7 linked regions of the Homo sapiens genome follow. The protein of the gene in region 4 purifies or fractionates together with the protein of the main gene of each other region. This does not show direct contact. Each region holds a gene or a part of one and is shown on either strand. Other genes may lie near its edges.

The links.
Region 1: the proteins of FBXL12 (region 4) and SLA purify together in Homo sapiens (affinity purification with mass spectrometry, with the first as the bait; one study listed by BioGRID). This does not show direct contact.
Region 2: the proteins of FBXL12 (region 4) and STYX purify together in Homo sapiens (affinity purification with mass spectrometry; 4 studies listed by BioGRID and IntAct, with this or other methods). This does not show direct contact.
Region 3: the proteins of FBXL12 (region 4) and CAPN2 purify together in Homo sapiens (affinity purification with mass spectrometry; 2 studies listed by BioGRID and IntAct, with this or other methods). This does not show direct contact.
Region 5: the proteins of FBXL12 (region 4) and RNH1 purify together in Homo sapiens (affinity purification with mass spectrometry, with the first as the bait; one study listed by BioGRID). This does not show direct contact.
Region 6: the proteins of FBXL12 (region 4) and ZNG1C purify together in Homo sapiens (affinity purification with mass spectrometry, with the first as the bait; one study listed by BioGRID). This does not show direct contact.
Region 7: the proteins of FBXL12 (region 4) and ALDH3B1 purify together in Homo sapiens (affinity purification with western blotting, with the first as the bait; one study listed by BioGRID). This does not show direct contact.

Annotation. Positions count from the first base shown.
Region 1 is NC_000008.11:133,050,603-133,054,102, forward strand, and holds part of SLA (src-like-adapter), read right to left. Parts: intron 314-3,500; coding exon 214-313; intron 1-213. UniProt on the Homo sapiens protein: Adapter protein, which negatively regulates T-cell receptor (TCR) signaling. Inhibits T-cell antigen-receptor induced activation of nuclear factor of activated T-cells. Involved in the negative regulation of positive selection and mitosis of T-cells.
Region 2 is NC_000014.9:52,728,767-52,732,965, reverse strand, and holds the start of STYX (serine/threonine/tyrosine-interacting protein), read right to left. Parts: upstream 2,801-4,199; 5' UTR 2,492-2,800; coding exon 2,435-2,491; intron 1-2,434. UniProt on the Homo sapiens protein: Catalytically inactive phosphatase. Acts as a nuclear anchor for MAPK1/MAPK3 (ERK1/ERK2). Modulates cell-fate decisions and cell migration by spatiotemporal regulation of MAPK1/MAPK3 (ERK1/ERK2).
Region 3 is NC_000001.11:223,743,539-223,747,038, forward strand, and holds part of CAPN2 (calpain-2 catalytic subunit), read left to right. Parts: intron 1-561; coding exon 562-680; intron 681-1,767; coding exon 1,768-1,901; intron 1,902-3,458; coding exon 3,459-3,500. UniProt on the Homo sapiens protein: Calcium-regulated non-lysosomal thiol-protease which catalyzes limited proteolysis of substrates involved in cytoskeletal remodeling and signal transduction. Proteolytically cleaves MYOC at 'Arg-226'.
Region 4 is NC_000019.10:9,816,280-9,820,533, forward strand, and holds the start of FBXL12 (F-box/LRR-repeat protein 12), read right to left. Parts: upstream 2,801-4,254; 5' UTR 2,535-2,800; coding exon 2,449-2,534; intron 2,339-2,448; coding exon 2,266-2,338; exon of another isoform or gene 1-2,265. UniProt on the Homo sapiens protein: Substrate-recognition component of the SCF (SKP1-CUL1-F-box protein)-type E3 ubiquitin ligase complex.
Region 5 is NC_000011.10:497,243-500,742, forward strand, and holds part of RNH1 (ribonuclease inhibitor), read right to left. Parts: intron 3,413-3,500; coding exon 3,242-3,412; intron 2,758-3,241; coding exon 2,587-2,757; intron 1,944-2,586; coding exon 1,773-1,943; intron 1,692-1,772; coding exon 1,521-1,691; intron 1,386-1,520; coding exon 1,215-1,385; intron 900-1,214; coding exon 729-899; intron 1-728. UniProt on the Homo sapiens protein: Ribonuclease inhibitor which inhibits RNASE1, RNASE2 and angiogenin (ANG). May play a role in redox homeostasis. Required to inhibit the cytotoxic tRNA ribonuclease activity of ANG in the cytoplasm in absence of stress.
Region 6 is NC_000009.12:68,293,983-68,297,258, reverse strand, and holds part of ZNG1C (zinc-regulated GTPase metalloprotein activator 1C), read right to left. Parts: intron 1-3,276.
Region 7 is NC_000011.10:68,020,327-68,023,826, reverse strand, and holds part of ALDH3B1 (aldehyde dehydrogenase family 3 member B1), read right to left. Parts: intron 2,343-3,500; coding exon 1,956-2,342; intron 1,233-1,955; coding exon 1,066-1,232; intron 1-1,065. UniProt on the Homo sapiens protein: Oxidizes medium and long chain saturated and unsaturated fatty aldehydes generated in the plasma membrane into non-toxic fatty acids. May have a protective role against the cytotoxicity induced by lipid peroxidation.

The sequences.
Region 1 (3,500 bases), on a different chromosome or scaffold from region 4:
ATTTGATCTACCAGGCAGTGGGGAGCTATGGAAGGTTCTAGAGCACTGGCCACATTAAAGAGGAAGGTTGCAGTATGGGTCAAATTTCTCACCTCATAATAGGACCAGGACTCATGTGGAACTAGACCACTCTAGCTAACAATCAAATACTTTTCTCCCAAACCAAGTTTATCCTGCTTTGAAGATTGCACAAGTTTTGGAGAGCTGACTCACTCAGAAATCACACGCAGTTTCTCCCCTCGGCGGAATATCGGGGGGCTGATGTCAGGAGACGGGTAGTCACTTAGCACGGCAAGGAAGTCGCTATCCAGTCCTGGGGAAACAAAGGCAAGGGGGAAGGGGGCAAGGTGCTTTTTATTCACAAGGAGCTTAAAGGTAGGCTTGGGAGGGAGGGTATGAAGATGAGATTTTCCAGCAGGAAATACCTTTCTTGTTTTGAACCACCAATTTACAGCAAGGTCCTCTCTTCAGAGATGGCTCTGCAGGGTGTGCGTACGAGCCCTGAGGGTCAGGTGACATGCTCCTATTCTTAAGCCTGCCTTGGCCCTCATGTTCTCATCTGAGAAATGGGATCCAAAGGCTGTGAGATGAGTCATGGGGTCTGGCTTCAGCGCCTGTTACGAGTCTACTAGCCTCACCCTCTCCATCTTTAAAATGGGACTAATACTACCTCATTCCAGGGTCCTTAGGAGAGGAGATGAGAGTATGTTACACCACATACGTTCACATAAGTTGCTGTAAAAACCCCCCTTCTCACTACCAATGCCTCGGGTGTCCACTCTGGGACTCAGAGTTGTTATATCTATGACACTTTTGGGGAAGGAGTGTGAGGCAAAATGAGTTCTGAGGACCCATTAGGACCATGAGGCAGTAACTCTGAGGTTAAACAAAATACTTATTTCTTGCAGAATATAAGGCCCCACGCTGGGCATCTATTTAATAGGGACATTTGTTGAGGGTGGGGGTGGTGGAAGAAAAACTTAGTACTTTTCCTAATAGTGTATTGAAAGGAATTCTGGTGAAGTTTTGAAAAGGAAAGAGGGCTGTCTGGTTCCTGACTGTAGAGGAGAGACAGTGATTTTGCTTTTTGACACTGAGCGATACGTCTGCTTCTATCCTTAGTGATTTGATGTAATTCAGATGCATTAGATGCAGGGTAATATTTGGATACATTTTTGGGGGAAATAACAAGATGTCTTCTGTATCAGCAAATACAGTTATTATTTGCTATGACTTTCATCACTCCACCTGCTGGCTGGGACTTTGAACTTAAAATTCTGGGTAACATCACCTGTTTATTCATTCGGCAACTACTTACTGAGCACCTGTCGTAAGCAGCATAGGTGAGAAAAGCAAGCCCATTCTTGCTGCTTTCACGGAGCTCATGTTCTACAGGATACATAAATAGTCATGGGAGGAACTGTTCCCTGGTTCGCTCACCCCAAGATCTGGAGAAATCCCAGTACTCAGGCATGTGGGCTTTGGGGCCCAAACAAGCCACTTTCTAGGATCCACACACCTCTAGATCCTGCCTCTTACAACTCATATGTCTTGCAGCCTCCGAGTCATAAGCCTCTTGGGCAGACTAAGTCTAAAGAGAGATTAAATACTAGAATCAGTGAGAAAGATGAGTGAGGTTTTGGGCAAAGGTTATGCTTATCGATTGATAAATAAATTAGAAACAAGTAATCACGGTGGAACAGTGCAGTCAAATGTATTGTTCATTTGGGGAAGCTGAGTCCCTGACAATAAGCCATGTAAAAGCAAGAGTTTCTGGGTGTAAGACAGAAACCAAGAGTGATCTTTAGTGGCTTTACAATATGGAAAGGGATCAGGGCTTTTGAGAAACAGTCGTGTCGGGACGTAAAAGGGCTGGCCCAGCCAGACCTCTGACCTGTCCTGCTGCAGACCTTCCCCAAACCTGTGGGGGCAGCTCCCTCACATTCTGCTTTGCTGAATTCAAAAAAGGGATTCTTCCCTGTGTAGCTTTGACTCCACCCCAGTAAGTAGAGGCAGCATTACAGTTGTGTTAAGTTTGAAGCCAGAAGTCCCAAGTTCTCACAAAGGGCAGGTTCACATTTGGCAGGGCATAAAGCTTAAGCAAATTTGGCAGTCCTCTTTAAGAAAAAAATACACAATTGCAAATACAAAATGAAGGACAGACCCCAGCAAGGTGCTGTACCAGCAAGGGGGTCTCAGGCGTATGATTTGTTTGGCTTCCTGGCAAATCTGCCCAGAAGCTGAGGCTGACTTTGCCACTCACTGAGTGGGACGCCTCCTTCTCCTCTTGGGCCTGGGTTTCCTAGTCTGGAAAATGAGAGGTTGAAAAACACCTTCAAGATGGAAATCTATCTTCCTGGACTAATGGCCCCCACATATGAATGGGCCGTTTATTAACATGGCACTGTGCTGCCTCGGCTACATGTGATGGGCCTTTCTCCAACTTGCCAGGCACCCTGGTTCTCAGAGCCTCCGGATAGGCTGTTCCCTCTGCCTGGAACACACCCTGCTCTTCCCTCCTTCACCGTTCCCACCTTTGTCAACTCTAAACTCACCTCTGCAGAGGCTCCAGAGGAGGCTCAGCCTTCCTGCTGTACTAATTCTTCCTCTTGGCCCCTAAGATTTTCCTCTGAAGCGGTTACCCCAGGTTGCATTTTCCCATTTGTGTGACTGTCAGGGGAATGCCCATCTGTCCCCACCCCCGGCTGTGAGTTCCGGGAGGGCAGAATACTGGTGTCTTCTGTGTCTGTAGCCTGTGCCACACCTGTTTTACAAAGGATGCTCAAAGCAGGCTTACTGAATGTGCAGAGCGGTCCCTGTGCTGCAATGCCCCTTAAATACAGCTGTCAAGCTACAGTTTTAAAGCAGATCCAGGCAGAAGGAAACCTGATTTGTGGGAGGCAGCTGGGTAGGTGGCCATTGTGGAACCAGCCCCTTGCAAAAAACGTGTTGAAATGGGGAGGCACAGTGTGTGTTCTCTGTGACAATAATAGAACCTTGAGGTAGATGGTGTGTCTACAGAGGGGTTTGAGGTTTGATATCAAATTCAAGATTAAGACTGTGGAACAGAACAATTGTCTTTCCTAACATTAAAAACAAAAACCAACAGAAACAAAAACAAAAGCAAAATCCCATTATAAAAACCACTGTTCCAATGAGGGAAAGGGAGGCTTAGAGTGTTGGAGAGTTTCAATTTCACAATAACAAAGTTAAGTTTCCTGTGGAATTTCCGTAATAGTGATGTTTTGATAGCTATGGCACTTAAACATCACTGAGGAAACTTTACATCTGGGCTTTTGCTTAAGGGTCAGATAACCTGTGCCTGATCCTTTGCAAGAGATTTCACCTCTCTTTATCATCACCATTAGCCAAACGGGACAAAGTCACTGGGAAGGTATTACAGTTTGGCTTGTACTTCTGTGGGGCAGGGTGGCCATTTTAAGCAAGGCCTGGTGCCAGGATCCCTTCAAAGTCTTCCCTGAGCTTTGGTTGCTACAGAA
Region 2 (4,199 bases), on a different chromosome or scaffold from region 4:
TTCGCGGTGGCTCAAGCCTGTAATCCCAGCACTTTGGGAGGCCGAGGCAGGCGGATCACTTGAGGTCTGGCGTTCCAGACCAGCAGGGCCAACATGGTGAAACCCCGTCTCTACTAAAAGTACAAAAATTAGACGGGAGTGGTGGCGGGCGCCTGTAATCCCAGCTACTCAGGCGGCTGAGGCAGGAGAATCTTTTGAACGTGGGAGGCGGAGGTTGCAGTGAGCGGAGATCACGCCACTGCATTCCAGCCTGGGCAACAAGAGTGAAACTCCGTCTCAAAAAAATAAATAAATAAATAAAAGCATACTCTTCATTCACATTATTGTATGTTAAGTATAAATTCATTTTTATAACTAGCCTAAATATGACCTCCTGTTTTCTAAGAGTATATTGGCCGGGCGCGGTAGCTCACGCCTGTAATCCCTGCACTTTGGGAGGCCAAGCCAGGCGGATCACAAGGTCAGGAGTTTGAGACCATCCTGGCCAACATGGTGAAACCCCGTCTCTACTAAAAATACAAAAAAATTAGCCCGGTGTGGTAGCGGGTGCCTGCAGTCCCAGCTACTCGGGAGGCTGAGGCGGGAGAATGGCGTGAACACGGGAGGCAGAGCTTGCAGTGAGCCCAGATCGCACCACTGCAAGATCATTCCAGCCTGGGCGACAGAGTGAGACTCTGTCTCAAAAAAAAAAAAAAAAAAGCTGGGCCTGGCGGTGCGCGCCTGTAATCCCCAGCTACTCAGGAGGCTTAGGCAGGAGAACTGTTTGAACCGGGACCCGAGGCAGAGGCTGCGGTGGGCTGAGACAGCGCCACTGCACTCCAGCCTGGGGCAACAAGAGTGAAACTCTGTGTCAAAAAAAAAAAAAAAAAAAAAACCATGAGTATATTCTTGGGCCAGGTGCAGTGGCTCACACCTGTAATCCCAACACTTTCGGAGGACAAGGCGGGAGGATCTTGAGGCCAAGAGTTCGAGACCAGCCTGGAGAAAAAACCCATCGCTACAAAAAAAAAAAAAAAGAAAAATTAGCCCGGCATGGTCCCAGCTACTCCAGAGGCTGAGGTGAAAGGATGGCTTGAGCATGGGAGTTCGAGACTGCAGTGAACCGAGATCACACCACTGCACTACATTTTGCAACAGTGATAGTCACAAACAAAGTCTCTACTCTTAAAACAAATGTAATTGTCAAGCATCAATACCACAAGAGAGCCCTCCAAACAAAAATGTGAACCTAGGCCGGGCGCGGTGGCTCATACCTGCAATTTCAGCACTTTGGGAGGCCGAGTCGGGCGGATCACAAGGTCAGGAGATCGAGACCACCCTGGCCAAAATGGTGAAACCCGTCTCCCCTAAAAACACAAAAATTAGCTGGGCGTGGTGGTGCGCGCCTGTAGTTCCAGCTACTCAGGAGGCTGAGGCAGGAGAATCGCTTGAACCCGGAAGGCGGAGGTTGCAGTGAGCCGAGATCGCGCCACATTGCACTCCAGCCTGGCGACAGAGCAAGACTCCGTCTCAAAAAAAAAAAAAAAAAAAAAGTGAACCTCCAATGAAGATATTCAATAGAATAAATATTCGGAATAAATTGAATGGTCTCCTAAAAATAGGGCTTTATTTTTCCCAACTACTTTAAAGGTATTTTTAACTAGCGATGTTAGATTTTCTTTCTTAATCCTACTAAAGTATAGCTGAGTATCTTCGTCTTGTTAATTTAGCCTCCAGAAAATTCTAATTTAGTAGTCTGCAATGCCGTAAAATGTTAAACTAGCAACAGATGAAAAAAAATCCGAGTAGAAACAGCAGGCAGGGATCTAAGGTGGAGTAAAAATAGCCACAAATTAGAAACCAGGAGAAAAGGTATATAGTATTTTACTTTCAATATTAATTTTCCTCCAAAGGTCAAGATTTCTGATTAAGAGTTCTCAGATTAAGATGAGCTAGCTTTGAGACACTTTGTTGTGCGGGTCATAGCTTTGTCTAAAAACAAACAAAAAACTTTGGGAAACTTTTCGAAGGCGCGCTTCCAAACTTCAGGCGCCGAGTCTATTTCACATGTGGGGCCATGTGTCCCACAAGTGAATCGTTTACACCACAGATATTCCTCAAAAGGAGACTAAACCAACTTCGCTCTCTTGTTACTTTGACAATAAAAGAGGAACCTTACTCCAGGTCAGTCCTGGATGCCAAGCCTAGGGACTAAGGGATTGCTTTTCCTCTTCTCAAATGTAAGTACACCAGACGCTGCCCCTCCGCGGGGTCTGGAGAGGACGAGCAACTCAGTGGGGATTGGAGCCGACCGCTCGGCTTCAGAGGTCCCGGGACGCCCTTAGGAGGCAGGGCGCCCGTACAGGTGGCGGCTAAGACGGTTGGGGACTGGGGTCGCCCCTCGGCCGGAGCCACAGGGAGAGGCCTGTGCGTGGCAGCCACGGGAGCGACTCACCTCGGCGTCTTCCTTGCACTGTGGAAGGGAAGGGAACTCCAGCTTCACGTCCTCCATGGTGCTGGCCCGCGGGCTGGTGGGTGGGGTGGGAGAGTGTTACACAGCCGGCCGACCCTCGGGCTGGCTGCGGCGGCGGAAGGAAGGAGGGCCGGCGGAGCGGAGGGCTGACAGGAGGGCGGCGGGATTACAACTAACACACGCAGACTACAGGGTCCCAGTGACTCCAGCAGCGGCGGCGGCGAAGACAGGGAAGAGGAGGGTCGGGCGTCTTACACCCGGCCGCCATGCCGCTGCCGTCTCCCTCCCCCAGAGTCTCCGTACCCCTCAGGCCGCCCAGGATCCAGCACAGGAACCAGCCCGACAACCGTCTCCCCGCCTCCTTCCCGCCCCCTCCACCCGCGTCGCCTCAGCCAATCCCAGCCCACGCTCGCCTTCTGCCCGCCCTCCGCCGCCGCCAGGTGTCAGCGCGCCACCGCCCTGCTCCGCCCCTTCGCTAGAGCGCAGACGCTTGGGGGTGGGGGGGGCGGAGCCTCGGATGCTGCTAGGCCACAGCTCACCCGGCGTGGAGGAGGCGGGGCTGCGGTGGGACAGGACGAGTGAAGGTCCTGGGAAAGGCAGTGGGGCGGTCCGAGCCAGCTCCGCCCTTTCCAGACAGGACGTAGAGCCCTTCTTTAACATAAGAACAAACAGGCAAAACAGGCTACCCACCAGTGGCATCCGAAAGGAAAGCTATAGTTTCTCCCCTCTCAAAATTCTGCGCAATCTATGCTGAGTTTATAACCAAATGACTAATAAATGAAGAGTTCAATTTAAAATCACGTGGTGCCATACAGAAAATAAAATACCCATCACCTTTAAGCAAAGAATTAAACGGCTCAATTTAAAATTTTTTAAAGTATTTTAAGAGTACTTGAAAATACAACTCAGTTTAGATTACCTAGAAAATATCAAGAATGGCAACTAGAAAAAAATCAGAAAAAGGAACTGATAGCTGACTCAGTAAATTGTATATAATACTGTAAAATTTCTTCCATTATTATATTTTGAAATAAAAATAATAAACCAGATGGCTTTCAATATCTTTTAAAAGGAGTTTGCCAGCCTGAGCAAAATAGTAAGACCCCCCTCTCTAAAAAACAATTTTAAAATTCCCTGGGTGTGGTGGCGTTATGCCTGTAAACCCATGGTGAAAAGATTTGGGCCGGGCGCGGAGGCTCACGCCTGTAATCCCAGCACTTTGGGCGGCTGAGGCGTGTGGATCACCTGAGGTCGGGAGTTTGAGACCAGCCTGACCAACATGGAGAAACCCCGTCTCTACTAAAAATACAAAAATTAGCTGGGTGTGGTGGCGCATGCCAGTAATCGCAGCTACTTAGAAGGCTGAGGCAGGAGAACCGCTTAAATCCGGGAGGCGGAGGTTGCAATGAGCTGAGATAGTGCAATGGCACTACAGCCTGGGCAACAAGAGCGAAACTCCATCTCAAAAAAAATCAAAAATAAAAAAAGAAAGAAAGGATTTGTACACCAAATTGATTCTTTAAAAAACCACCGCCAGCACAAAGGTAAAAGGCAAGATAGTCACTCCTTAACTAAATGCAAATTATAAGTGAAAAGATCACATAGATATTTGACTTAAACCTCCCCCTACATTCTACTTTTTGTCACATAAAATGCACTGCCAACACATAGAAATAGAACTGTACAATAATTTGAGTATGAGATGGCTAACTTGACCACTCCATTTTCTATTTTAACTGTTCATCTT
Region 3 (3,500 bases), on a different chromosome or scaffold from region 4:
TGGAGTGCAGTGGTGCAATCATGGCTCACTGCAGCCTTGAAATCCTGGGCTCAAGGGATCCTCCTGCCGCAGCCTCCCAAGTATTCGTATTATAGCTGGGACTCCAGGTGTACGCCACCACACCCAGCCCAAACTCCCATTCAAAGCCTGTGTGCTCAGAAGCCTCTGCAGCTGCGCTGGTTTCATTCTCTCACTGTGGAGCATCTGCTGCGAATCAGGTGCAAGGCTGGGCTCTGAGGGCACAGTTCAGCCACCAGAGTTCTGGGTCTTTCAGGGAATGAAATTTCCCATCTCTGCCCAACCACAACACAGCAAAAACATTTCTCCCTTTGCATTTCCCTCAAAATACTAGGTTGGTGCAAAAATCACAATTACTTTTACACCAACCTAATAGCCCCCAAACCCTCTGACCCAACCCTCATATGGGGGACTGCCTGAAACTTCACTCTGTCTATTCACAGGTTGTCTTAGGCTTTAAGCCCCTGGAGGTGGAGACAAGATTTTTAACATCCTCCTGGTTCTAAGACCCTCTGATAAGAGCTCCTTGTGCTGTGTTCACAGGTGACTGCTGGCTGCTGGCAGCCATTGCCTCCCTCACCTTGAATGAAGAAATCCTGGCTCGAGTCGTCCCCCTAAACCAGAGCTTCCAGGAAAACTATGCAGGGATCTTTCACTTCCAGGTAACTTAATGGTTGGCTCAGGTGGTTCCTCAACAGGTCCAGGGGGCTAGGAACAGTCTTCTGGCTTGGCTGGGTTCATCAGTCCCTGGTGTTTGCAGACTCCCAAGACCAATACTGTTCTACAAAGGACATTGGGCGAGAGCAGGAAGCTTCCTGGCTTACCCGTGGCCAGGATGTGAGACCCGGCTGGGATGGCCCTGGGTGGTTTCTTGGGACATGTAAAAGGGAGGTAGAGCAAGGTGTTCAGGAACTAATTCCCAAGTTTAAAAAAAAAAACTGTATTATTTGATGTTTGAGACAAAAACGTTGAAGTTCTCCTCCTTTTATGCCGGTAAATGAGAAATAATACTTGAAAAAGCTGGCTGGGCACGGTAGCTCATGCCCGTAATCTCAGCACTTTGGGAGGCCGAGGTGGGCAGATCATTTGAGGTCAGGAGTTCGAGACCAGCCTGGCCAACATGATGAAACCCCATCTCTACTAAAAGTACAAAAATCAGTTGGGCGTAGTAGTGCAGGCCTGTAATCCCAGCTACTTGGGAGGCTGAGGCAGGAGAATCACTTTAACCTGGGAGGCAGAGGTTGGGAGGCCAAGGTGGGTGGATCACTTGAGCCCAGGAGTTCGAGACCAGCTGGGGCAACATGCTGAAACTCCGTCTCTACTAAAAACACAAAAAAAATTAGCCGGGTGTGGTGGCACGTGCCCTTAATCCCAGCTACTCGGGAGGCTGAGGCAAGAGAATCACTTGCATCCAGGAGGCAGAGGTTGCAGTGAGCCGAGATCGTGCCACTGCACTCCAGCCTGGGCAGAGCAAGACTTGGTCTCAAAAAAAAAAAAAAACAGCCTAAGGTACAGGGCAGAATGCTAAAGAGGCGGGTGTGGATTTGAAAGGATGGACATGCGCCTCTGTCTTCGCTTTTTTAGTGAGGACTTGGCCTGCATAGGAGAGTTAAGGGAGCACCTCCTCCCAGGATGCGCTCATGGAACCTATCCCAGGGGATCAGGGCAAGGGGAGCCAGAGGCAGCTGAGGCTCAGAGTCCCAGTGCTGCCACCAGCTCCTCCTGCAGCCCACCTCTCTTGTTCTGCAGTTCTGGCAATACGGCGAGTGGGTGGAGGTGGTGGTGGATGACAGGCTGCCCACCAAGGACGGGGAGCTGCTCTTTGTGCATTCAGCCGAAGGGAGCGAGTTCTGGAGCGCCCTGCTGGAGAAGGCATACGCCAAGTAAGTTGCCATCCTCCCCTGGCCCCATGGCCTTCCCCCAATGCCCTGGATTCCAAAAAATTCACTCATGCCTGTAATCTCAGCACTTTGGGAGGCCGAGGTGGGTGGATCATTTGAGGTCAGGAGTTCGAGACCAGCCTGGCCAACATGATGAAACCCCGTCTCTACTAAAAATATAAAAATCAGTAGAACTACTCCAGGACTACTTTGAGTGGGAAGTCCTTTTCTATAGAAGGACTTCTTTGGCCAAAATTAGGCTCTAAATGCAAGGAGATAGTGCATGCAGGGTGCCTGGCTGCACTGTACGCTGATAAATGATGTCTATCACCATCTTTAACCAAATGCACAGGAACAAGTTATGGTACTGATTGTGCTGGACTTGAGAAGGAGCTCTACTTCCTTGACAGGACACATTTGTATCAACTTAAAAAAGCAGAATTTTTGCCAATGGGCAGAACTATTCATTGCAGAGGTAGGAAACTTGCCCAGAATAGATGATGTCACTGATTAGCAATGGCTTCCCCATCTCCGCACAGCTGCTTCCCACCCAGGTTGCCCACAGTTGAGTTTGTCCAGTGCTCAGGGCTGCCCACTCTCAGTAAGAAGCCCCACACCAGCCCCTCTCCACAATGGCCCCATGTTGGCTGTGCCGCCCGGCTCCTTCCATTAAAGTGACCCCACTTTAGAGCAGCAAGTGGATTTCTGTTTCTTACAGTCCCAATCCAGGAAGGAGGAGTCAGCTGTGAGAACCTGGAGCCTGACGGATGCTTCTAAGTCCCACTGCTCAATACTGGGGTCAGGGAAGCCACCGGACTCCAGCATCAGCAGTCAGGAGCACTAAGCCCTTGCCAACACCGTGCCTGTTTCTCAGAGAAACTGCTTCCATTATTGAATGGTTGTCCTTTTTTAAGCTATCAATGCCAAACGACCCATTAGTAGACCTCCCCTTTCTTGTCAGGATGTAGAAGGAATCAATACAGGAGGTTCATCCAGAAAATCACTAAGGTCCTTCCGACTCTAAGGTTCTACGAGAATCTTTTTTTTTTTTTTTTTTTTTAATACGGAGCCTCATTCTGTCACCCAGGCTGGAGTGAGCGGCATGATCTCAGCTCACTGCAATTTCCACGTTCTGAGTTTCAGCAATTCTTTTGCCTCAGCCTCCCAAGTAGCTGGGACTACAGGCATGCACCACCATGCCCAGCTAATTTTTTTGTATTTTTAGTAGAGATGGTGTTTTGCCATGTTGGCCAGGCTGGTCTTGAACTCCTGACCTCAAGTGATCCGCCCACCTCGGCCTCCCAGAGTGCTGGGATTACAGGCATGAGCTACCGCGCCCGGCCTGAGATTTTCTTTAAAACACAAAATACCAGGGAAATGGTAACTGTGGACATTATACCTTGCCTTCCTGAGCACCCCGAGCTGGGAACAAGGCCAAGGAGAATGTGAGCAGGGGGTCCCTGGAGCATCAAATCTAGACGGTACTAGGGGGTGGCTGTTTGAGAGATTATAGCATCAGTAGTGTCAAGGGTAGCGGCAGCGTCTAATCCCCTCTTGTAGGATCAACGGATGCTATGAAGCGCTATCAGGGGGTGCCACCAC
Region 4 (4,254 bases):
TGAATTTCTCCCTAGAAAATGGGTTTTTCTTTTCTATCACATAGTCAGGCTACAAATTTTCCAAACTTTTCTGCTCTGCTTCCCCTATAAAACTGAATACCTTTAACAGTACCCAAGTCACCTCTTGAATGCTTTGCCACTTAGAAATTTCTTCCACTAGATACCCTAAAACATCTTTCTCAAGTTCAAAGTTCCACAAATCTCTAGGGCAGGGGCAAAATGCCATCAGTCTCTCTGCTAAAACATAACAAGAGTCACCTTTACTCCAGTTCCCAACAAGTTTCTCATCTCCATCTGAGACCACCTCAGCCTGGACCTTATTGATCATACCACTATCAGCATTTTGGGCAAAGTCACTCAACAAGTCTCTAGGAAGTTCCAAACTTTCCCACATTTTCCTGTCTTCTTTTGAGCCCCCCATACTGTTCCAACCTCTGACTGTTACCCAGTTCCAAAGATGCTTCTACATTTTTGGGTATCTTTTCAGCAACGCCCCACTTACCGCTACCAATTTACAGTATTAGTCTGTTTTCACACTGCTGCTAAAGACATACCTGAGACTGGGAAGAAAAAGAGGTTTAATTGAACTTAAGTTCCACATGGCTGGGGAGGCCTCAAAATCATGGCGGGAGGTGAAAGGCGCTTCTTAACATGTTGATGGCAAAAGAAAATGAGAAAGAAGCAAAAAAGGAAACCCCTGATAAACCCATCAGATCTTGTGAGACTTATTCACTATCACAAGAATAGCATGGGAAAGACTGGCCCCATGATTCAATTACTTTCCCCGGGTCCCTCCCACAACACGTGGGAATTCTGGGAGATAGAATTCAAGTTGAGATTTGGGTGGGGACACAGCCAAACCATATCATGAACCAAGAGAGAAAGAAACATGTTTTAATGAATCTTCTCAGGCGGCTGAGGCAGGAAGATGGCTTGAGCCCAGGAGATGGAGGTTGCAGTATGTTATGATTTTGCCACTGCCTGGGTGACAGAGTGAGATCCATCTCAAAAAAATAAATTAGAAAAAGATAAACTGCAGAGCATAAATGTTATGGGCTACTTTTGACAGAGGAATCAAATCTTCCTTGCCAAATTTAGACCCGTGTGGGTCAGCAGAAATTGACTAGAAATAGTGGCCACCGAATGGTAACTCACAAGGGTAGCAGTTAAAGTTGGTAAAATTTTAAATGCACACAAAACCAATGGACGAATCAACTTTTCCTCGCAAAACCAACAACTAAGTTTCAACAACTGAGAAAAAGTTTCATATTATCAGGCCAGACACTGTGGCTCACACCTGTAATCCCAGCACTTTGGGAGACTGAGGTTGGGGGACAGCTTCAGTCCAGGAGTTCGAGACCATCCTGGGCAACATAGCAAGACTCTGTCCTTAAAAAAAGAACTTCAAAAGCAACTGTATTAAAGGGAGTTACAGATGGATATATACAGTAAAATTGTTTAAAAGTAGAACACTATCTAAATAGTAGAACAGCATTACCCGAAGTTCAGAAATACATTACTAACACTATAATTGTTTTTGGACACACACATATGAAGTAACGTAAAAGGAAGGGTGCAAATTCACTTTATAATAGCAATTATCTATGAAGACAGTTTCAAAAAGGGCAACAAATATATCTATAAATGTTTTGAGCCAGTTGCTGTGGCTCATGCCTGTAATCTGAACACTTTGGGAGGCTAAGTCGGGAGAATCACTTGAGCCCAGGAGTTCGAGACCAGCCTGGGCAGCATAGTGAGACTCCGTCTCTACAAAAAATAAAAAATTAGCAGGTGTAGTGGCGAGCGCCCGTGGTTCCAGCTACTCAGGAGGCTGATGCGAGAGGATCGCTTGAGCTTGGGAGGTCGAGGCTGCAATCGCACCACTGCACTCCAGCCTGAGCAGCAGAGCGAGACTCTGTCTCAAAAACAAAACAAAAACTTGATAACATAGTCATAAATTAGCATTTATCGAATGATAAATATGTGCCAGACTGTTCTAAGCCCTTTCCCTGCGTGATCTCAGTGAAGTCCCATAATAGCCCCGTGAGGCAGGTACTGTCCTTTATCCCCATTGCAGGGATGAGGAAATTGAGGCCCTGAGGTCGAAGAGGAGCTGGTAAGCGATGATGCCGAGATAGGCCCCGGATCGCCTGGCTCTAAATCCCCAGCCCGGGCCCCGACACACAGTCCCAGGGTGGGAGAGGTGGTCTTCGGGGTCCGGGCACCGCGACCGCGGCCCAGGCCCGCCCGGCCAGCTGCGCGTACCGTGTAGAGCGTCAGGTCGACATGTCGCCACAGCCACCGGTCGTCCACCAGCCTCTTCCAGCGGTGACAGACCCTGGGGGAGGGGACGCGCGGTTAGAACGACCCCAGCCCCGGGCCACATCGCATCTCCAGGTGCCAGCTGCGCCCTCCGCCCTGCCCTTCCCCCCGGAGGCGGGGCCGCACCTGGAGATGCGGATCCGGTCCCGTACCGGGAGGTAAGAGAAGATCTCGAGCAGGACCGAGTCCGGCAGTTCGACCAAAGTCGCCATGATCCCGCCGACACGCACTTCCGCTTCCGGTTAAAGAGACCCGAGGGGTCCTGGGGGCGCCGAGGCGGCTGACAGGGCGGCGGCCGCGACCTTCCCGTAGCCGGTCGAGAAATTTGACCTTCCTCTCGCTGGGAAGTGATTCGGTCCCAGGGCCGGACCAGCCGCGGATGGGGACCAGAAACCAGCCTGGAAAGCGTGGCTGAGGCAGTGAGAGGCTTGCGGGAGGTGGCTGAGGCGTGATTTGGCCGCGACTGGGAACTAAGACCAAGTCCAGAAGGCGGGGCTGGAGTGAGGCGAAGCTCGGAGGCGGGGCTAGAGACGAGGACCAAGTCCGGAAGGCGTGGCCGGGGTGGGGTGAGGATCGGAGGCGGGGCTAGAGACCAGGACCAAGTCCGGAAGGCGTGGCTGGGGTGGGGCGAGGATCGGAGGCGGGGCTAGAGACGGGGACCAAGTCCGGAAGGCGTGGCTGGGGAGGGGCGAGACCCGGGGACGGGGCTAGAGGCGAGGCCCAAGCCCGGAAGGCGTCGCTGGAGTTGGGCGAGGCTCAGGGGCGGAGCCAGAGAACGGAACCAAGTCCAGAAGGCGGGGCTGGGGCGCGGCTAGGGGGCGGGGCTAGAGACGAGGACCAAGTCCAGAAGGCGTGGCTGGGGTGGGGCGAGGATCAAGCCCGGAAGGCGCGGCTGGAGCGGGGCGAGGCCTAGGTGGGGCTGCAGACGAGAACCACGCCTTGGAGGCGTGGCTAGGGCGGGTAGAGGCTCGGACAACCGCTGGAAGGCGGGGCTGGGGCGGGGCGAGACCTTGGGGGCGGGGTTGACGACGAGGACCTAGCCGAGAGGTCGTGGTCTGGACGGAAACCAGGCTGCAGCAGGACCAGGCGCCAAGGGCGTGGCTGGGGAGCGATGGAGACGCTCGGAAGGTGGGGAGCGGGGGACGGAGACAGGGAGAAGACTACGCCATGAAGGCGTGGTTGAGGCGGGGCGAGGCCTGTGGGTCTGGCCCCGAGCGAATGGCTTGGTAGAGAGTCAGAGAACTCTATTTTTTTACTTAATGATGCTTCTTGATGTCTATGCACAAGGATAAATTTGTATTACTGGAATATCGTGGCCAAAGGACCTGTTGAATTTTTCACTTTCATTGATACTACAGATATTTTCTGAATTGGCAAGTCCACCAAGAAACTATAAAAATGTGTGTGTGCAATGGCTGCACACAGCAGCTTCCTTGGTAGTGTACGCAGCCTGTTGGTTGTATGGGTTGCTCTAAGGGACCTTGGAGACAGGCCTTTCCGATGGATGTTCATGTTTCTAACCTTGCACTACCACAATGTAGGCTCCAAACAGGCATGTGAGGTGCCTTTGGAAAGCCCCAGGGCACTGTGGCCAGGGTTGACATTGGCCAAGTTATCATGTCCATCCGCACCAAGCTGCAGAACAAGGAGCATGCGATTGAGGCCTTGCGCAGGGCCAAGTTCAAGTTTCCTGGCCGCCAGAAGATCTACATCTCAAAGAAGTGGGGCTTCACCAAGTTCAATGCTGATGAATTTGAAGACATGGTGGCTGAGAAGCGGCTCATCCCAGATGGCTGTGGGGTCAAGTACATCCCCAATCGTGGCCCTCTGGACAAGTGGCTGGCCCTGCACTCATGAGGGCTTCCAATGTGCTGCCCCCCCTATTAATACTCACCAATAAATTCTACTTCCTGTCCAAAAAAAAAAATGTGT
Region 5 (3,500 bases), on a different chromosome or scaffold from region 4:
ACACTCATGCTCACTCTCGCCCATGTGCTCACACACGGACACTCGTGCTCATTCTTGCCCATGTGCTCACACACGGACCCTCGTGCTCACTCTCACGTGCTCACACACGGACACTCATGCTCACTCACCCATGTGCTCACACTCGGACACTCGTGCTCTCACCCATGTGCTCACACACGGACACTCATGCTCTCTCGCCCATGTGCTCACACACACTCGTGCTCCCTCTCGCCCATGTGCTCACACTCACACGGACACTCGTGCTCATTCTTGCCCATGTGCTCACACACGGACCCTCGTGCTCACTCTCACGTGCTCACACACGGACACGTGCTCATTCTTGCCCATGTGCTCACACACTGACCCTCGTGCTCACTCTCACGTGCTCACACACGGACACTCGTGCTCTCACCCATGTGCTCACACACACGTGCTCACCCATGTGCTCACACACGGACACTCGTGCTCATTCTTGCCCATGTGCTCACACACGGACCCTCGTGCTCACTCACGTGCTCACACGGACACGTGCTCACTCTCACATGCTCACGGACACCCATGCTCACACTCATATGCTCACACACGTGCTCACACTCGCCTCACCCATGTGTGCTCACATACACACGGACACTCGTGCTCACACAGATACTCGTGCACTCTCGCCCTTGTGTGCACACACGGGCATATGATCTCCCAAATGTGCATACTCGTGTCCCTCACACACTCACCAGAGCACCCGCAGCACAGAGCCAGGCTGGCCCAGGCCCTGGCACAGCTCCCGCACGCCCGCATCCTCCAGCCTGTTGTTGCTTATCTGTAGCTCCAGGAGAAACCTGTTCTGGGCCAGCACTGAGCTGAAGTGGGAGCAGCAGGCGGCTGTGAAGCTGCAGGACTTCACCCTGTGGACACAGACAGGACTGACGCCTGGCAGGGGCCCAGGCTGGCCCACAGCTGCGACTGGCCCTTCCCCTGAAGGCCCCACGTGGACCTGAGCAAAAACATCTGACAGCCTCCCAGCAAGTGGGCACCTACACCTGGTCCTTGGCCCCAAGCACTGTTCCCATCAAACCACAGGCTGCTCCCTGGCCTATGCATTCTGAAGGTCGGAGCTGAGCCCAGCAGCTTCCCTGGAGTCGCTCACTCCTCCCCTGGTCTCCTCGGTCACCCTGGCCCTCTCTTGGGCGACAGGGCCCTGCCCCGACAGCCACACTCACCACAGCGACTCCAGCTGGCAGCCAGGTTCCAGCAGGGTCTCACACAGCAGTCGGGCACCCTCATCCCCCAGCTCGTTGCCGGCCAGGCTGAGCTCCTTCAGGCTCTCCTTGGCCCTGAGGACACGGCACAGATCCCCGCAGCCCTTGGCAGTGATGCCACACTCCCAGATCCTGCAGGACATGGACCACCACAGACTTTCCTCAGCACCGTCTCATGGCCTGAGATGAGCCCAGGGGCGGGGGAGAGCTCTGAGGACGGCCCGCCGCCCGACCCTCCGGGAAGGAGGCCTCGCGGAGATGACTCACCACAGGGTCCTGAGCCTGGAGCTGGGGTGGAGCAGCCCTGGGCACAGCTCCGCCATGCCCACATCACCCAGCTTGTTGCTGCCCAGGGCCAGCTCCCGCAGCGAGGCCTTGGAGGCCACAATGCCGCACAGGTCCCGGCAGTTGTCTGATGTCACACCGCAGCTCTCCAGCCTGGGGACACGGGTCACACGTGAGGCAGCACGGGACCCCCCCTAGCCCACACCCCGCACCCCCCCAAGGCCCAGTGCCTACTTGAGCGCCTCCAGCTGGCAGGGGGAGTCCTTCAGGCCCTGGCACAGCACACGGACGCCAGCCTCATTGATGTCGTTGTTGCTAACCGTGAGCTCCTTGAAGTCCGGCTTGGCCCTGAGCACGGAGGCCAGGGGCTCGCAGCTGGCAGCCGAGAGGCTGCAATACTCCAGCCTGGGGGACAGCAGAGCTCAGCACCACACAGGAATGTGCACCAGCCAAGGGTGTGATACCAGGGAGCACGGGGTGTGCTGGTGTCTCATCTCCCCTCAGTCTTCTGCCTGGGCATCAGGTGTCAGTGCTGAGGGACCCCCACAGACTCATCCAGAGGCCCGGGCCTCTGTGGACACCGGCATTCCTTCTGGAAACCCCTCACCCCCTCCCGGACCTCAGACTTTGGGGCCCAACCAGGCCCGGGAGAAAGAAACCAGCCTCTGGAGGGCAGGGCCACCTGCACGTCCCAGGCTGTGGTCAACTCACAATGGCCGGGTCCCCCACACACACTGAGGCGGTGAGTGGAACCTGACTCACGGCCAGGCATCTGTTCCCACCGTCGGGTCCTGGGGCAGCTGTGCCTTGCAAAGGACAACTGGATGGGGAGGGAGGGTGATGACAGATCCCCCCAGCCCCAGCATCATGGGGAGAGGAGAGCACCACAAGGCCCCAGACCCAGCATCATGGGGAAAGGAGAGCACCACAAGGCCCCTGTGACCTGAGTCCCCTCCTCACGGCTCCTGGCAGGCGATGTTCTATGTAGGGGGCTGGCTGGGGGACAGGCAGCGGCCAGCATGGGCCCTGGGGCAGGACACAAACTCACTGCAGCTTTTCCAGGCGGCACTGGGGGTCCAGGAGTCCTTCGCAGAGCAGCTGCAGGCCCGCATCCCCCAAGAGGTTGTCGCTGAGGTGCAGCTCCTGCAGGGTGGGCAGGGTGCGTAGTGTGCTGGACAGGACCCCGCAGCCGGCCCCCGTCAGGCAGCAGTTCTGGAGGCTGGAGCATACCTGGCTGTCAGCAGGGCTCCCCTGAGCCAAGCTGCCACGCCCTTCGCCTGCCAGAGCCCAGAGCCCGGAGCAGCACTCTTCAGGCGGCAGGTCTATACCTGCTCCTTCCCTGGACGGGGCTCTGGGGTCTGGGGTCTCCAGGCCGAGTGAAGGAGGGCACGCATGTGGCTCGACCCAGGGAAACCTTGTCTGCAGACACACCTTTCAGTGGGGGTCTGTGGTGATGCTGGAAGGCTAGGGATGGCGGGCAGGGCCAGATCTTGGGTGCGGGGGCTGGGATAAGGCAGGAAGGGCCCTGTCCCCCCCGCTGTGAGACCGCCAGGCCTGTGTGCCTCTGGCTGATGTTGGAAATGTCTGCTGCCACTGCCTGTCCACCTGCAGCTGCCCACGCGCCCCTGGCGGCTCTGTCCCCTGCTGCCGGGCTACCAAAGCAGACTGCACCAGGCCAGAGGCAGTGCCAGGCCCCGCCTCACCTCAGCTTCTGGATCTTGCAGGAGGGGGTCTGCAGGCCCTGGAGCACGCAATGCACGCCGACATCGCCCAGCTCGTTGCTGCGCAGGTTGAGCTCTGCCAGTGCAGGGTTGACTCGAAGTGCAGAGCTGATGTCCTTGCACCGTGCTTCCGTGAGGCCACAGTCGTCCAGCCTGTGAGCAGACCCCAGGGTCATGTGGACCACGCAGACAGCACTGGCCTCAGCCTCCACCACCACCCCACGTGCAGGTTACAACCTAT
Region 6 (3,276 bases), on a different chromosome or scaffold from region 4:
GTAACACATACAATGTACTCACTACACAGGGCCAGGTACTTTTGCCTGAGTCACCTCATTGTATCTTTTGACTTACTCTTCACAACAATCCTGGGGAGTGAAGATAACTATTTCATTTTATAAATTGGGGAAAATAAGGGTCAAAAAAATAAGCTACCCAGAGCCAGGAATAAAACTCAAAACCAAAGTAAATTTGTTCTCTTAAAAAAAAAATACAAAAGAAAGGCTTGGCTTATCTTTAACTGAATAAGCATGTGCCAAGAGGAGAAGAGTTCTTAGCGATGAGAATGATAGGATAATGCCCTCTTTGGCTTTAGTAAGGGTGACATCATCATGTATTGAATATTAACTTTAGGATTTATTTTTCTTCTTTATCTTGATAAATCTCTCACTGTCTACCCTAAAGAAACAGAAGCTTAACATTTCCTCTAACAGGTCACCTAATTAAAACCCAAACCTCCCTTTGCCAATATAACCCCAAATTTCAAACTCAGAGATGAAAATACACAAGGGCTAAGCATAACATTATAAAAACATACACCCCACCTTGGAAAATAGAGGCTCAAAAGCCAAGCTCAAAATGAATTTAAAAAGGTAGAAAATAATATACTAAAGCACATCTTTGCATAACTTCCTAGAACTGCGTATCTGGCCTAGCAATTTTACTCACCATTACATAATCATACAGGCTTACAGCAGAAAATACAAAAAGACCAAAAACTATTTTATAATCCAAACTCAAGAGAATCGCTAAAGTATTAAAGACCAATTTAGGCAGAAACATATGAGACATTTCTTTCTTTCCATAGGTTACTGGGGAACAGGTGGTGTTGGTTAACTTCTTTAGTGGTGATTTGTGAGATTTTGGTACACCCATCACCTGAGCAGTATACACTGCACCCAATTTTTGTCTTTTATTCCTCATCCCCTTCCCACCCTTTCTCCCTGAGTCCCCAAAGTTTATTGTGTCATTCTTATGCCTTTGCATCCTCATAGCTTAGCTCCCACTTATGAGTGAGAACATAGCGATGTTTGGTTTTCCATTCCTGAGTTCTTTCACTTAGAATAATAGTCTCCAATCTTATCCAGGTCACTGTGAATGCCATTAATTCACTCCTTTTTATGGCTGAGGAGTATTCCATTGTATGTATATATATCACAGTTACTTTATCCACGCATTGATTGATGGGCATTTGGGTTGGTTCCACGTTTTTGCAATTGCGAATTGTGCTGCTATAAACATGCGTGTGCACGTATCTTTTTTGTATAATGACTTCTTTTCCTCTGGGTGGATATCTAGTAGTGGGATTGCTGGACCAAATGGTAGTTCTACTTTTAGTTCTTTAAGGAATCTCCACACTGTTTTCCATAGTGGTTGTACTAGTTTACATTCCCACCAGCAGTGTAGAAGTGTTCCGTGTTCACCACATCCATGCCAACATCTACTATTTTTTTGATTTTTTTATTATGGCCATTCTTGCAGAAGTAAGGTGGTATCGCACTGTGGTTTTGATTTGCATTTCCCTGATCATTAGTGATGTTGAGCATTTTTCCATATGTTTATTGGCCATTTGTATATCTTCTTTTAAGAATTGTCTATTCATGTCCTTAGCCCACTTTTTGATGGGACTGCTTTTCTTGCTGATTTGTTGGAGTTCATTGTAGATTCTGGATATTTGTTCTTTTTCAGATGTATATATTATGAAAGATTTTCTCCTTCTCTGTGGGTTGTCTGTTTACTCTGCTGACTTTTCCTTTTGCTCTGCAAAAGTTCTTTAGTTTAATTAAGTCCCAGCTATTTATCTTTGTTTTTATTGCATTTGCTTTTGGGTTCATGAAATCCTTGCCTAAGCCAATGTCTAGAATGATTTTTCCAATGGTATCTTTTAGAATTTTTATAGTTTCAGGTCTTAGATTTAAGTCTTTAATTTATCTTGGGTTGATTTTTGTATACAGTGAGAGAGGAGGATCCAGTTTCATTCTCCTACATGTGGCTAGCCAATTATCCCAGCACCATTTGTTGAAAAGGGTATCCTTTTTCCACTTTACGTTTTTGTTTGCTTTGTTGAAGATCAGTTGGCTGTAAGTATTTGGGTTTATTTCTGGGTTCTCTATTCTGTTCCATTGGTCCATGTGCCTATTTTTATAACCGTACCATGCTGTTTTGGTGACTATGGCCTTATAGTATAAGTTTGAAATCAGGTAATGTGATGCCTTCAGATTTGTTCTTTTTGCTTAGTCTTGCTTTGGCTACGCACATGTGTATGTTAAACCATCCCTGCATCCCTGGTATGAAACCCCTTGATCATGGTGGATTATCTTTTTGATATGTTGTTGGAATCAGTTAGCTAGAATTTTCTTAAGGATTTTAGCATCTATGTTCAAGGATATTGGTCTGTAGTTTTCTTCTTTGGTTATGTCCTTTCCTGGTTTTGGTATTAGGGTGATACTGGCTTCATAGAATGATTTAGGGAGGATTCCTTCTTTCTCTCTCTTGTGGAATAGTGTCTTTAAGACTGGTACCAATTCTTCTTTGAATATCTGGTGGAATTCTGTTGTGAATCCGTCTAGTCCTGGACATTTTTTTGTTGGTAATTTTTTAATTACCATTTCAATCTCCCTGCTTGTTACTGGTCTGTTCAGGGTAATTCTTCCTGATTTAAGCTAGGAGGGTTGTATCTTTCCAGGAATTTATCCATCTATTTTAGGTTTTCTAGTTTATGCATGTAAAGGTGTTCATGGTAGCCTTGAATATCTTTTGTATTTCTGTGGTGTCAGTTGTAATATCTCCCGTTTCATTTCTTATTGAGCTTATTTGGATTTTCTCTCTTTTCTTGGCTAATCTTGCTAACGGTCTATCAATTTTATTTATCTTTTCAAAGAACCAGCTTTTTGTTTCATTTATCTTTTGGATTTTTTTGTTGTTTTGTTTCAATTTCATTTAATTCCGCTCTGATCTTCTTTCTTCTGCTGGGTTTGTTCTTGTTTCTCTAGTTCTTTGAGATGTGACCTTAGATTGTCTGTGCTCTTTCCAACTTTTTGATGTAGGCATTTAGGGCTATGAACTTTCCTCTTAGCACCACCTTTGCTGTATCCCAGAGGTTGATAGGTTGTGTCACTATTGTCATTCAGTTTGAGGAATTTTTACATTTCCATCTTGATTTCATCTTTGACCCAAAGATCATCCAGGAGCAGGTTATTCCATGTATCTGCATGGTTTTGAAGGTTCCTTTTGGAGTTGATTTCCAGTTTTATTCCACTGTGGTCTGAGAAAGT
Region 7 (3,500 bases), on a different chromosome or scaffold from region 4:
CAAGCAATCCTCCCACCTTGGCCTCCCAAAGTGCTGAGATTACAGGTGTGAGCCACCGCGCCCAGCCCTGCCATCACTTTTTTAGTTTTGACCCATCTAAGCACCATTAAATGGGGGAAATTAGGTGTGGGGTACATGGGAACTCTCTGTACCATTTTGGCAACTTTTCTGTAAATCTAAAAGTATTTCCCAATACAAAGTTTATTTAAAAAAAGTTCAAGTGGCCGGGCACGGTGGCTCATCCCTGTAATCCCAGCACTTTGGGAGGCCGAGGCAGGTGGATCACCTGAGGTCAGCAGTTCAAGACTAGCCTGACCAATGTGGCAAAACCCCATCTCTACTAAAAATACAAAGAATTAGCCGGGCATAGTGGCACACGCCTGTAATCCCAGCTACACAGGAGGTTGAGGCAGGAGAATCGCTTGAACCCGGGAGGCAGAGGTTGCAGTGAGCCAAGACTGTGCTACTGCACTCCAGCCTGGGTGACAGAGTGAGACTCTGTCTCAAAAAAAAAAAAAAAAAAGTTCAAGTGGAGGGAATCGAGGAACTGGCTGAGGGCCGGGGAAGGGGGCGGGGTGGGTAGGGACTGCTGGTACCTCTTGGTGTTTTTTAATCTGAGGACTCTGGCCTTGGGCCTCCCAGGCTGCCTCTGCAGCTTAAGCAGGGGTAGGGGATCAGGGCTCATTCTTGGACCTGCACCTTTGGGTCATCCCCGACACGTTGCCTGTGCCTTCAGAGCCAGGCTTGAGGGGTCATGTGGCCACCAGGCCCCGATGTGTAAGAAGGACAAAGGCAGGGGCTGACCTAGAGGAAACACTGGACCCTAGAGAAGGCCCATACCCCAGGAAGCTGCCCACTGAAGGCCTAGGAGAGTGGGGCCCAGACTGGGGACAGGGTTGGGGTGGGTGAGGCTCAGCTGCTTCCAGGAGAGTGGGCAGAGACAGAGCCAAGAGGTCCACCATCCCAAAGTCCTGAAGCCACTGGATTTTGGTGCCCCCCCTGCTGCCACCACTTGTGCTGCCCACTGCGGGCTCCTGACCCTGCCCAGCCCGGCCGCACCCCCACCTGGCTGCTGTTGGAGAAGGCGTACAGGGCCAGGGGCTTCTCCCGCCGGTTGATGAACTCGATGGCCTCGTCCAAGCTCTGCACGTTCACGATGGGCAGGATGGGCCCGAAGATCTCCTCCTGCATCACAGGCTCCATCTCCTGCACATCCACCAGCACCGTGGGGGCTGCAGGCACCAGAGACAGCTCAGCCCTGGGGCCACAGTCAGGACCGCCCCCAGGGTGGGGGTAGAGGTGGGGACAGGGCCACAGGCCAGGGCTCTAGGCCAGGATCCCAAGGTCTGACTTCCCAAGGCTTCAGGCTTTGGAGTGTTTAGGGAAGAAAGTCTCCCCACAGCCCCCCAGAAGGGACTCTAGAGCTTCCCCAGCCTGCTCAGGGCCTGTGGGACACAGAGAATCCCCCGACCTTGGTCTCACAGTCAGGGGTGATGGGATCTTAGAACCCTTGGAGTTCATGAGGCAACAGCGTCCCAGAATGTTGGCGCCGCAGTGTCCCATGAGCTGCTGAGCCGTACGGCCCAGGAGACTGGGGGCTCAGGACGGGACTCTCGGAGTTTAGAACCTGGGGATTGTGGGCTCGGAGAATCTGAGGTTACAGCCTTTCAGGATAGCCAGTGGTGGGATGGGAGTTCATCTTAGCACGCTGAGCCCTGGAGCCCTGGGATCTGAGCTCAGCGAATCCAAGGTGAGGGACCAGAGTTTGGCCTCATAGGGCCACAGACTTAGAAGCACAGAGACGGAATCATGGCACTGGAGCTGTGGCTCAAGGCCGGGCTCTGGCAGTGGGGCCAGGTTTCAGGCGCGGGTCCAGAGTTGTGGCCCAGCCTTGGGCCCTCCAGTGAGGAGGGGTCTTGGCCCAGGTGGGCTGTGGTAGGGGCAGCAGGACTCACCGATGTAGCGATCGCTCTCATCGCTCTGGCCCCCAATGGCCACACGGCCGCAGCCCAGCAATGCCCGCAGCCGCTGGAACTGTTTCTGGTTGATGATGCGGCCCAGGTTTGGGGAGCTCTGGGGGTCGTCGCCATAGAAACGGGTGATGGTGCTCTGCAGGGCAGGCAGCAGCCTCTCCTGCATCTCAGGGCTGCATAGGACGTAGTCGGGGGCCACGCAGGTCTGGCCGGCGTTGAAGTAGCGGAACCAGGCCACGCGGTTGGCCACGGTCTGGGGGTCGCAGTTGTCGTCCACGTAGCAAGGGTTCTTGCCCCCCAGCTCCAGGGTGACAGGTGTCAGGTGCTTGGCGGCAGCAGTCATAACAATCTTGCCCACACGAGGGCTCCCTGGGCATGGAAGGAAACCAGAGTGGCCGTTCAGTGACCTGGACCAGGCGGGATGGCCCAGCCCACGGCCCCGCTCCTCCCTGGAGAGGTGGTGGAGTCAGCGGGCAGCAGCCCTCGCCTGGCCTTTCCTTGTTCCTCACTGCCACCCTGCAGCCCAGGGCCCTGCTCATCCTTCATCAGGACCAGCCCCTAAGCACAGAGTCTCAGGAGGGAATGGTGCACGGCTGCTATCGGCCCCCAGGGTCCCCCTGCTGAGCCAAACCCCTTGGCTCCTCCCGCCTCTGCTTGTGACCCTGGCTGACCCTGCAGGGGACTCTTTGCAAAATGCTGCATGGAACCCCTCCCCACCCATCTCCTTTGGAAACTTCGGGGATCCCTTATCACCCAAGGATGGAGTCCAGCTCTGTCTACGGCATTCAGGTCTCTCTTCTCTAAACCTAAACCTGGAAGTTCTGCCACCTGCCCAGCCCTTTTTTTCTGACCCTTGAGGTGGACTGTCCCAGGCTGATGCAGGCGTCCCCATGTCCTGCCTGGCTTGGCCTCACCTCTCCTCTGTGCTGGCCTCCAGGGGCCCAGCAGTCTCCGCATGCACACAGCCTTCTCTGCCCTAGCCCTGTCTGGGCCTCAAGGCCTCCTCTCCAGACCTGACTCGGGGACCACGCTGCTGCGTCTGTGGGGATGGCCCTGGCATTTCTCCCCCTTGTGGTCAAGGATTAAAGCCGGCAGGAGCCACTGTGCCTTCTCTACTCTCACCCCTGCCCCATCCTGGCACAGTGCTTCCTGGGCTCTGTGGTTCCTTCCAGGGCTCCTTTGCCTTTGCTGGGAGGCGGCCAGGTCAATCCTGCCAGGCCCTTCCCCACGACTGCCTCGACCTGTAAGGCGCAGACTCGCCTGCCAGCACCACTGTCTTCCTCTCGCTCCCTCTGCCCCTCCCTAGCTCAAAAACTCGAAGCCGGGTGTGGTGGCTCATGCCTGTGATCCCTGCACTTTAGGAGACCAAGGCAGGAGGACTGGTTGAGGCCAAGAGTTCGAGACCAGCCTGAGCAACAGAGTGAGACCCTGTCTTTACTAAAAATACAAAAAATTAGCCGGGCGTGGTGGTACATGCCTGTCACCCCAGCTACTTGGGAAGCTGAGGCATGAGCATCACTTGAACCC